Linked DNA regions of Homo sapiens: region 1 is linked to region 2. Evidence: fine-mapped expression QTL. A gene starts in region 2. The other region holds a variant in brackets. All regions are shown on one strand. Distances are between the middles of the regions. Region 1 overlaps LOC102725238 (a long non-coding RNA gene). Region 2 holds the start of CNTNAP1 (contactin associated protein 1).

Region 1 (5,368 bases), 250 kb before region 2:
AGATTAACCAAAGCATATTTTCATCCATGCTGGGTACAAGGGAGCAGGCAATTCTGAGCAGGCCCAAGGAGGGTCCTTAGTGCAGAAAGTCCAGAAATAGGGAGGCTGCCCATCCTCCCCCATTTTGCTGTCTAGCACAGCACTGGTGCTGTGAGTGTCTGAAGTGGCGCCAGCTCCCTTTCCCACAGAAAAGCGGCAACCCTTTTCCCTCCTTAGGAAACCACACTTGGGTTTCCCCAGCTGGCTGGATGATGGTCCTGGCAAAAGGTCACTTCTAGTCTGGTATCCATTATCATTAGGAAGAGTGAAAAACTGGTCTATGGGGACCCAGGGCCTCCTCAACCCAGACAGAGAACCCACAAACTCAGAAAGGAGACCGACAGTGCAGGGACTGGGTTAGTGCCCTAACAACATTGTAGGGTTTTTTAAGGGTTTACAACACCATATTTGTTATCCGAAATTCTCATAGAAAATGGAGCCATCAACTAGGGCTGTTTATCAGGTTATCCTGAAGTACTGTTTCTGCTAGAAAGGCAAGATACGTGGTTACTGGTAACCTCTTTTTTTCCTTTTTTTTTTTTTTTTTCTTGAGATGGAGTCTCACTCTTTTGCCAGGCTGGAGTGTAGTGGTGCAGTCTTGGCTCACTGCACCCTCCACTTCCTGGGTTCAAGCGATTCTTCTGCCTCAGCCTCCCGAGTACCTGGGACTACAGGCACGCACCACCACACCCAGATAATTTTTTTTTTGTATTTTTAGTAGACACGGGGTTTCGCCATGTTGGGCAGGATGGTCTCAATCTCTTGAGCTCGTGATCCACCCACCTTGGCCTCCCAAAGTGCTGGGATTACAGGTGTGAGCCACTGTGCCCCGCCTTTTTTTTTTTTTTTTTAAGACAGAGTCTCACTCTGTTGACCCTGCAGCCTCGAACTCCCGGGTTCAGGTGATCCTCCCACCTCAGCCTCCCAAATAGCTGTGACTATAAGCGCACACCATCACACCCAGCTAATTTTTGTATTTTTTGTAGAAATGGGGTTTCACCGTGTTGCCCACGCTGGTCTCAAACACCTAGGCTCAAGGGATCCACCTGCCTTGGCCTCCCAAAATGCTAGGAATACAGGCGTGAGCCACTTCGGCTTTGTGTTTTTTCCAACTTTTTTTTTTTTTTTGAGACAAGGTCTTGCTCTGTCATGCAGGCTGAGTGCAGTGGCACAATCACAGCTCACTGCAGTCTTGACCTCCTGGACTCAAGTGATCCTCCCACCTCACCCTCTCAAGTAGCTTGGACTACAGGTGTGCCACCACACCGGGTACCCTAACACTTCAATAACTGTTTTCTCACAAACAAATGGCTTTCTCATTTGAGGCTCAAGTAGAATTAAGCTAGTATATAAGATCATATATACACATATAACTGCTAGAACTGGCAGATTACCAACTTACTTTAGAATTTAGGAGAAATGTATTAAAGTAATTTAAATTCCTTCTACTAAGGATTGAAAAAGCTTTTGGAAAAAAGAGGAGTGACAGTAGAGAACCTTATAGGACCTTCATTTCTTAAGTGTCCCATAAGATCCTTAGATGATGATGATTATTATTATTATCATTTTTTTTTTTGAGATGGAGTCTCTCTCTGTCACCCAGGCTAGAGTGCAATGGCACAATCTCGGCTCACTGCAACCTCCACCTCCCGGGTTCAAGCGATTCTCCTGCCTCAGCCTCCCAAGTAGCTGGGATTACAGGTGTGTGCCCCCATGCCCAGCTAATTTTTTTTTTTTTTTGAGACGGAGTCTTGCTCTGTTGCCCAGGCTGGAGTGCAATGGCATGATCTCAGCTCACTGCACCTTCCGCCTCCTGGGTTCAAGCGATTCTCCTGCCTCAGCCTCCCAAGTAGCTGGGACTACAGGTGCCTGCCACCACGCCTGGCTAATGTTTTGTATTTTTAGTAGAGACGGGGTTTCACCATGTTAGCCAGCATGGTCTCGATCTTCTGACCTCATGATCCGCCTGCCTCGGCCTCCCAAAGTGCTGGGATTACAGGCGTGAGCCACTGTGCCTGGCCTCGCCCAGCTAATTTTTTGTACTTTTAGTAGAGACGGGGTTTCACCAGGTTGGTCAGCCTGGTCTCGAACTCCTGACATCAGGTGATCCACCCACCTCGGCCTCCCAAGGTGCTGGGATTACAGGCATGAGCCACAGCACCCGGCCTCTAAAAAATTTTATCTCTATCCCAGCAACTAGTTTCTTTTCCAGGAGACATCAATTATTACTATATTCTCTTTTTTTTTTTTAGGTGGAGTTTTGCTCTTGTTTCCCAGGCTAGAGTATAGTGGCACCATCTCGGCTCACTGCAACCTCTGCCTCCCGGGTTCAAGCAATTCTCATGCCTCAGCCTCCCAAGTAGCTGAGATTACAGGCATGTGCCACTACGCCTGGCTAATTTTTGTATTTTTAGTAGAGAAGG[A/G]GTTTTACCATGTTGGCGAGGCTGGTCTTGAACTCCTGACCTCAGATGATTCACCCACCTCGGCCTCCCAAAGTGCTGGGATTACAGGTGTGAGCCACCATGCCAAGCCTATTATTACTATTCTCTTGCGGAATCTTCTATAGACTATTTCTGCATATATGATCATACATATATATATTTCAGCACTTTCCTGTTTTCAGTTATTAATATGTTTTATGGATAGTTCCATATCAGTACATGTAGAACTGCCTTGTTTTCCAATGTATACGTCTACTATATTTGTTTAACCAGTTCCCTATCAATGGACATTTACAGATTACAATTTAAATCTCATGGGGGAGGAGTTGCTGAAGACAAGTGGGATTTTTTTGTTTTTGTTTTTTGCTTTTGAGGCAGGATCTCATTCTGTTGCCTAGGCTGGAGTGCAGTTGCTCAATCAGGGCTTACTGCAGCCTCGAACTGCTGGGCTCAAGCAATCCTCCCAACTCAGCCTCCAGAGTAGCTGGGACCACAGGTACACACCACCACACCTGGCTAATTTTTAAATTTCTTGTAGAGACAGAGTCCCAGCCATGGGGTTTTGCCACGTTGCCTAGGCTGGTCTTGAACTCCTGGGCTCAAGTGATCCTCCCGTCTTGGCCTCCTGAAGTGCTGGGATTACAGGAATGGGCCACTGTGCCCAGCCTCATCAGGAAAGTATTTCTATACCACTTCTTCAAACAGGAATGTCAGAATTTGTGGATGAGTCAAGTTATGTCCCAGGGGTAGTCCAGTGAATACATCTCTGACTCATTTAATGCCTCCTTAATGGATGATTTCTGTAAAAGGGCCCTACCCCTGCATGCCTATGTTGGAGAAAAATCTGCATCAACAAGTTTCTCTCACATTCCTTTTCTTACTAAATGCCAGCTAAGTCCAACAGGGGGCATGCTGAGGCATATTGTACTAGCTCCACCAGCACAGATGCCGCAAACTGGAGCAGAGCAGTCCTTTCCAGAGCATTTCACTCCATTCCAGTGAAAATAAGCAGTTTCTCTTCATTTGTAACTGCATTCAGCATGCCATTGCCTGCATTCAGGGTTGTTGGTTTGCATTTTCCATTGCTCACTCTATTTGCTTGCTGAAAGGCACACTGTTCCATTGTGTGCTTTCAGCCACTGAGACAGAATCCATAAAAGGGATAGTGAGGTAAAAGCAAACAACCCCTTTGGCCCAGAAAAAGGACACCAGGATGCAACATGTCAGCAGTTAGAATCTTACAGGGTGCTCTATCGTATTCTTCCATCCATCTACTTGTTCAATAAAACATGACTACTTCGCACTAGCCATTTACTGGGCTAGGGACTTTAATGAGGATAAATCAAGTCTAGTCCTTTTTTTTTTTTTTTTTTTTTTGAGACGGAGTCTCACTGTTGCCCAGGCTGGAGTACAGTGGCGCCATCTCAGCTCACTGCAACCTCTGCCTCCCAGATTCTCCTCCCTCAGCTTCCCAAGTACCTGGGATCACAGGCACCCACCACCACATCTGGCTAATTTTTATAGAGTTGGGGTTTCGCCATGTTGGCCATGGCTGGTCTTGAACTCCTGATCTCAGGTGACCCGCCTGCTTCGGCCTCCCAAAGTGCTGGGATTATTGGCGTGAGCCACTGCACCCGGCCTTTTTTTTTTTTTTGAGACGGAGTCTCGCTGTGTTGCCAGGCTGGACTGCAGTGGCGCGATCTTGGCTCACTGCAACCTCCGCCTCCCGGGTTCAAGTGATTCTCCTGCCTCAGCCTCCTGAGTAGCCGGGATTACAGGCACACAGCACCATGCCCAGCTAATTTTTGTATTTTGAGTAGAGATGGGTTTTACCATGTTGGCCAGGCTGGTCTCAAACACCTGATCTCAGGTGATCCACCCAAAGTGCTGGGATTACAGGCATGAGACACCACGCCTGGCCACCCCCAGCATTTTTTTTTTTTTTAAAGACAAAGTCACATTCTGTTGTCCAGGCTTGAGTGCAGTGGTGCGATCTCAGCTTGTTGCAGCCTCGACTTCCTGAGCTCAGGTGAGCCTCCTATCAGCCTCCCATGTAGTTGGGACTACAGCTGTATGCCACTACACCTGGCTAAATTTTTTTTTTTTTTTTTTTTTTGTAGAGATGGGGTTTTGCCATATTTCCCAGGCCACTCTTGAACTCCTGGGCTCAAGTGATCTGTTCACCTCGGCCTCCCAAAGTGCTGGCATTACAGGTGTGAAACTCTGCACCTGGCCAGATGCATAGTGTCTGACACAGCTGAAAGCTCCCCCCCAGCATAGGGAAAGCAGTCACTACTCTCAGGAAGAGTGGGGAAGGGTTCACAGGTGAGGGTAGGTACAAAGGAGGGGGAAAGGACCCCCTCCCAAACCCAGTATCTTGCGGTGTGAAAGGGCACTGGGGAATAGCCAAGCACTGCTCATCTCCTCTTATCATGGTTCTGCCATAAGTCTTATCAGTTTACATTTAGGGAGATCCAGCAAAGGGTGTAATATGTAATATGTTCTGTTCAGTTTTGGATCTGTGCTGGGAGAGATCCCAGGGAGACTGTGTGTTTTGTTAATAATAAACAGCTGGGACAAATGATGTGTCTTCACATTGGGACAACCGTCTCACATGGGAGGCTAGCCCTCAGCAGCTGGCTCACAGCTGCCACAAACAACAGTGATTTTTTTTTTGCCAGTTTTATAGGCACTATTCTTGTCTCTCTGATATACATATATGAAAAATGCCTATAATATTTGTATGTTTCTCTTTCTCAAAATCCCTTCCTTTCTTTGCCTTCAAATATTAATATATAGGGTAACTTCCCTGAACCAGAAAACAGTCAAAATTATTTATTAAGTGCTAATTTATGCATAGTTTGGTGCTAGAAACCATCCAAAGGACA
Region 2 (5,299 bases):
GCGAGGCTGTAGGGCAGCTGCAGCACCACGAAGGCCGCCACCAGAGCCACCACGACGCGCAGCGCACGCCGGCGCTCGGGCCCCCTGGCGGCCAGCAGCGTGCGGCCCAGAAGCGCGTAGCAGGCTACCATGACGCCCAGCGGCAGCGCGAAGCCCAGGGCCACCTGCGCCACGGCGCTCGCCCCCTTCACCGTCTGCGTGAGGCCCTCGGGGAAGATGAGGCGACAGCGTCGTTGGCCTTCCCGCTGCCCATCCTGGCTGAAGAGCAGCGCAGGCAGCGCCAGGAGCAGTGACAGCAGCCACACGATGACGGAGACCAAGTGTGCGCGGCCGGGAGTGGAGGGCCGCGGCCCGGCTGGGAGCGCTCGCGCGATGGCCACGTAGCGGTCGGCGCTGATACAGGCCAGGAAGAGGAAGCCGGCGTGGAAGGAGGCCGAGTAGAGGCCAGAGATGGTGCGGCAGGTGGCACTTCCCAGACTCCAGCCCTGAAGAGCCCCTGCTGCCGCGAAGGGCAGAGTCAGGGCCAGCAAGAGGTCGGCCAGGGCCAGCTGGAGCAGGTGGGCAGAGGTGGGCGAGCGCGCTGCGCGTCGGGCTGCCAGGTGGGTGGCCAGGACCAGGCCATTGCCGGCCAGACCCAGCGCAGCCACGGTCAGGGAGACACTGGGTTGGAAGGCCCGGCTGAAGGCCTGGACATCGGCCTTGTAGCAAAGCTCCGGCAGTGGCTCAGCCGAGTATGCGTCCTCTTCATCCCCAGAGTAATGGCCCCAGGAAACCTGGGAGGGTCAAATGAGAGGCGGGATCTTATGAGACACATCTGACCACACAACTCCCCCGCCCACACTTGCCTTCCAAGCTGAGAGCTCCTGTGTGGCCAGATGTAACAGTACACGGGGAGACATAAGCTCTTCTCCAGACTCTTCCTAGCACACCTTCAGCAGGCCTTGGCTTCCCTTGCACCCCTCCTACCTCTGCTTCCAGCTTCCTGGGTGACCTTGAGCAAGCCACTTGCTCTTTCTAGACCTCAGTTACCTAACCTGTAATGTTGAGATTATAAATCCTGACCAGCCCACCTCTCAAGGTTTGCTGTGAAGATGGCAATATGGAAAATAATGGATGGGGAGAACCTGTGTTCTCCAAAGGCCATAATACAAAGTTTGTATTATTATTATTATTTATTATTATTATTATTGGAGACAGAGTCTTGCTCTGTCGCCCAGGCTGGAGTGCAGTGGCACGATCTCGGCTCACTGCAACCTCCGCCTCCGGGTTCAAGAGATTCTCCTGCCTCAGCCTCCCAAGTAGCTGGGACTACAGGCGCCCACCACCACGCCCAGCTAATTTTTGTATTTTTAGTAGAGATGGGGTTTCACCATGTTGGCCAGGATGGTCTCGAACTCCTGACCTCAGGTGATCCGCCCACCTTGGCCTCCCAAAGTACTGGGATTACAGGCCTGAGCTACCACGCCCAGCCCAAAGTTTGTATTATTAATAAATCCTACAGCTTCAGTTCCCTTTGCAGCGCCCTCTCCTGGAAGGATGCCCATATGCAGGCTTTGCCTCAGACCTGAGCCCTGGACTCCAACCTCCGTCTGGAGTGGGTTTCTGTTTCTCTTCTTTCCCTTCCATACCCACCTTCCCTGTACCTCCAATACCAGCACACTGAACCACTCATGCCAAGGGGGTCTCCAGGGTTGGGACTCAGGTTTTCAGGGCCCAGGTGGGACCCTGGACCTCTAGGTTCAACCCGCCTTTCCCCTCAGCCCTAGTCCCTGTCCCACAACCCCAGCCTCACACCACCAGCCCATTTATCTGGAGGACCCCTAGTCTGAGACAGCGCCAAGAATCCTGAATAAGCCATAGGATGGCAGAGGCCCATTGCCAGGTGGGGAATCCCATTCCTTCCCTGTCTCCTCCCTCTCTGTAACCCTTCTCCCCCTCCCTGCCCCCACTCCCACCTGCTCTGTGGCCTCCGTCCCCATCTCTGGCTACACAGGTTTCTGAGGTATAGCCACAGGGGGTAGAAGTTAAACTACTAGCGGGACAGGAAGGAAGAGGCGGGGAGAGGGGCCGAGAGGGAGGTGGGGATTAGGGTCTACGGGGTCACTTTCCCATTCCACCTCCTCCAAAAGACTTCACTCTCTTGTGCAGGATCTGGATTTTACGAAAAAAAAAAAAAGAAGAAGAAAGGAAGGAAAGAGGAAAGAAAGAAAGAAAGAAAGAAAAAAAGGAAGGAAAGAAAGAAAAAAGAATGAACGAAAGAAAGAAAAAATAATTTACTGTCTTTGTCAGTGAAGAAAGAACGGGCTTCGGAATATAATCATTTGCTGTGTGATATTGACTAAGTTTCTTGACCTCTCTGAGCCTGAGGTTTTTCATCTGCAAAGTGGAGTAGGGCAAAAATGCTAAATTCACAGTGCCCAGCACCACTCCTAGAGCATAATTTGCCTTCCGAAAATGTTAAGATTCTTTTACTTACCCTTCATTCCATTTCCAGGCACCCCTCCCCCAAACCACCTCCCTTTTCTTGAAATTTTCAGGATGCTTCTGGCCCTAGGTTCCCTGTCCTCACTCCTGTGGCCCTAGTCCCGGGCAGCCTCGGGTTACTTGGGGTTTTCCCGGTGGCGAGAGGCTCTCTACCCCCGCCCTTTCGCAGCAGGGCTGAGGCACGCGCTTGCGCGGGGTCCGGGAAACCGGCGCGTGCCAGGAGACAGAGGCTGGGGAAGGGGGGAGGTGAGAGGAAAGAGGGTGGAAAGGAGAGGATAGAGAGAGAAGAGCGGAGGACCAGGAACCAGAGAGAGAGAGAGAGAAAAGAGAGAGGAGAGACAGAGCGCTTGGGGGCGAAAGGAGAGAGGGAGGGAAGGGTGGGTAAGGAGGAGAGAGCGGTCTGCTGCAAACCCCAGGAGGAGAGCTTGGAGCCCAAGCCAGAACTCGAGCCCTAGCCGGAGCCGTTCACAGGGAGGCGGCTGCCGGGACCGTCAGCCCTGCATGATGCATCTCCGGCTCTTCTGCATCCTGCTCGCCGCGGTCTCAGGAGCCGAGGGCTGGGGCTACTGTGAGTGTTGGGCTTGGAGGCAGGTGGGGTTGGGCCCAGGAGTCCAGAGCCTGCAGGGCGGCCCCGAACCGCATTGCGGCTGGGTGGTCGCGGGTCCTTCCCGGCCGGCGCGCGCCCGCTGGCTCTCATCTTTTCCTGCCTCTCCCCCGCGCTCCGCATTGCAGCTCTGAGGCTGCCGCGCGCGCCCGGGGCTGGGGCTGGGCTCTGGGAAGAGGATGAAGTCAGCGGGCAGGGATTTGGGGTTGGGATCCAAGCAGGAGCTGGTGCCTGGGTTTGAGGCTAGGGCTGGGGGATAAGTGTATACTGGTGACCGATACTAGGATTAAGGTTTTGCCAGGGCTTAAGGCTGGACTTTGGAGCTGGCCAAGGGGTGGGGTTTGTGGCTAGGGCTGGGGTTTGTGGCTGGGGCTGGGTTTTGTGGCAGGGATCCAAGCAGGAGCTGGTGCCCCTGACTGATGCTAAGGCTGGACATGGAGCTGGTGATGGTGCTAGCACTGGCTGAGGTTGGGTGCAAGGCCTGTATTTGGGGATGGTGCAGGTTTTGGGGGCCGAGTTGGATTGAGGCTAGGGTTGGAGCTGGATTGGTGTCTTGGGTTGACTTAGGTTGTGGAAGATGCTGAGGTTTAGGATTGAGTTTGGGAAAGTACTAAACCAGGGCAGGTATTGGGCTAGCTAGGGAGGGTCTGGCCTTGGGCCTATAGGTGTAGCCTAGGGGTTTGCCTAGAAGGAGAAGGTAGCCTCCTCTGAGCATGCAGCTGTTGCTGCAGCCAGGATTGAATAGATGGCTTTAAGGTAGGGCTGGGTGTGCCTCTGGGGGCGGGGGTTGGGGGCACGGAAGGGGAAGCTTCGGTCGCTAAGTGGGCCGGCCTTTGGAAGGGTCTGGGAGGGGCCAGCGCTGACTAACAGTCGGTTTCCCTACCCTAGACGGCTGCGACGAGGAGCTGGTGGGTCCCCTGTATGCACGCTCCCTGGGCGCCTCCTCCTACTACAGTCTCCTTACTGCGCCGAGATTCGCCAGGCTGCACGGTGAGCTCCGCGGAACATCAGCTGCCAACTGGCAGCGCACCGCGGAAGGGTGGGGGCCTCCGGAGGACTTCGGGGAGAGGGATAGCCGGTTAAAGCTCCTGTCCTTTCTATAGGCATAAGCGGGTGGTCACCACGGATTGGGGATCCGAATCCCTGGCTCCAGATAGACTTAATGAAGAAGCACCGGATCCGGGCCGTGGCCACACAGGGCTCCTTTAATTCTTGGGACTGGGTCACACGTTACATGCTACTCTACGGCGACCGAGTGGACAGCTGGACACCGTTCTACCAGCGAGGGCACAACTCGGTACTCTGGGCGCCAAGGCGGTAACACTTGGGGAGCTTCCTCTGCTCCAGGCTCTGGGCCGGGCACCAGCCTCTGGGAAAATGGAGGGGGTGGTGGTGAGGGCTCGGACAAGGAGCAGTGACTCCACTCCAGGGACTCTGTCCAGAGGGACTGTCAGCTTAGGACGTGCGCGAAACACTCGGTTCACAGGGTTTAACACACTTTAGGGTAAAACCTGGGAGAGCTTCCTAAGGAGGTGACATTTGATTTCAGGTCTGAGGAAATAATAGGATTGTGGGACAGGGCACTTTATGGAAACTGTGCGGGCAAAGCCGCCAAGCAGGGAAGACCAAGGAGTGTTTACTTTCCAGAAGTCGAGATTGGCTGGGTGTGAAAGTTGTGGGCTGGGAGGCTATGGAGAAAGAAGCAGAGGGGGGCCGGGCGCAGTGGCTCACGCCTGTAATCCCAGCACTTTGGGAGGCCGAGGCAGGTGGATCACGAGGTCAGGAGTTCATGACCAGCCTGGCCAACATGGTGAAACCCCGTCTCTATGAAAAATACAAAAAAATCAGCCGGGCGTAGTGGCGGGCGCCTGTAATCCCAGCTACTTGGGAGGCTGAGGAAGAGAATTGTTTGAACCCGGGAGGCAGAGGTTGCGGTGAGCCGAGATCGTACCACCGCACTCCAGCCTGGGCGACAGAGCGAGACTCTGTCTCAAAAAATAAAATAAAAAAAAGAAGCAGAGGGCAGGACGTGGTTACTACTCTCCTCCACCCCCGCAGACCTTCTTTGGTAACGTGAACGAGTCGGCGGTGGTGCGCCATGACCTGCACTTCCACTTCACTGCGCGCTACATCCGCATCGTGCCCCTGGCCTGGAACCCACGCGGCAAGATCGGCCTGAGGCTCGGCCTCTATGGCTGCCCATACAGTAAG

What was found. PIP is the estimated chance that this variant, and not a neighbour inherited with it, causes the effect.
Region 1: its variant is the best candidate, but not a certain one, in a credible set for the expression of CNTNAP1 in whole blood (INTERVAL, PIP 0.59).

What each region holds. Positions count from the first base shown.
Region 1 is chr17:42,425,202-42,430,569 of GRCh38, forward strand. All of the region lies in intron 2 of LOC102725238 (a long non-coding RNA gene), which reads left to right. Among named protein-coding and RNA genes, the nearest start is that of CAVIN1, 4.6 kb to the left of the region's middle. The variant A/G (reference allele first, on the strand shown) is at 2,463.
Region 2 is chr17:42,679,845-42,685,143 of GRCh38, forward strand. CNTNAP1 (contactin associated protein 1) reads left to right here and starts at 2,687. Exons shown (of 24, transcript NM_003632.3): 1 at 2,687-3,052; 2 at 3,977-4,078; 3 at 4,192-4,385; 4 at 5,147-5,294. The coding sequence starts at 2,986. It overlaps CCR10 (C-C motif chemokine receptor 10), which reads right to left and starts at 1,999. Exons shown (of 2, transcript NM_016602.3): 1 at 1,956-1,999; 2 at 1-773. The coding sequence starts at 1,979. RefSeq lists enhancers at 1-152, 153-1,001, 2,220-2,838, 2,782-2,831, 3,092-3,141 and silencers at 1,387-1,681, 3,927-4,221.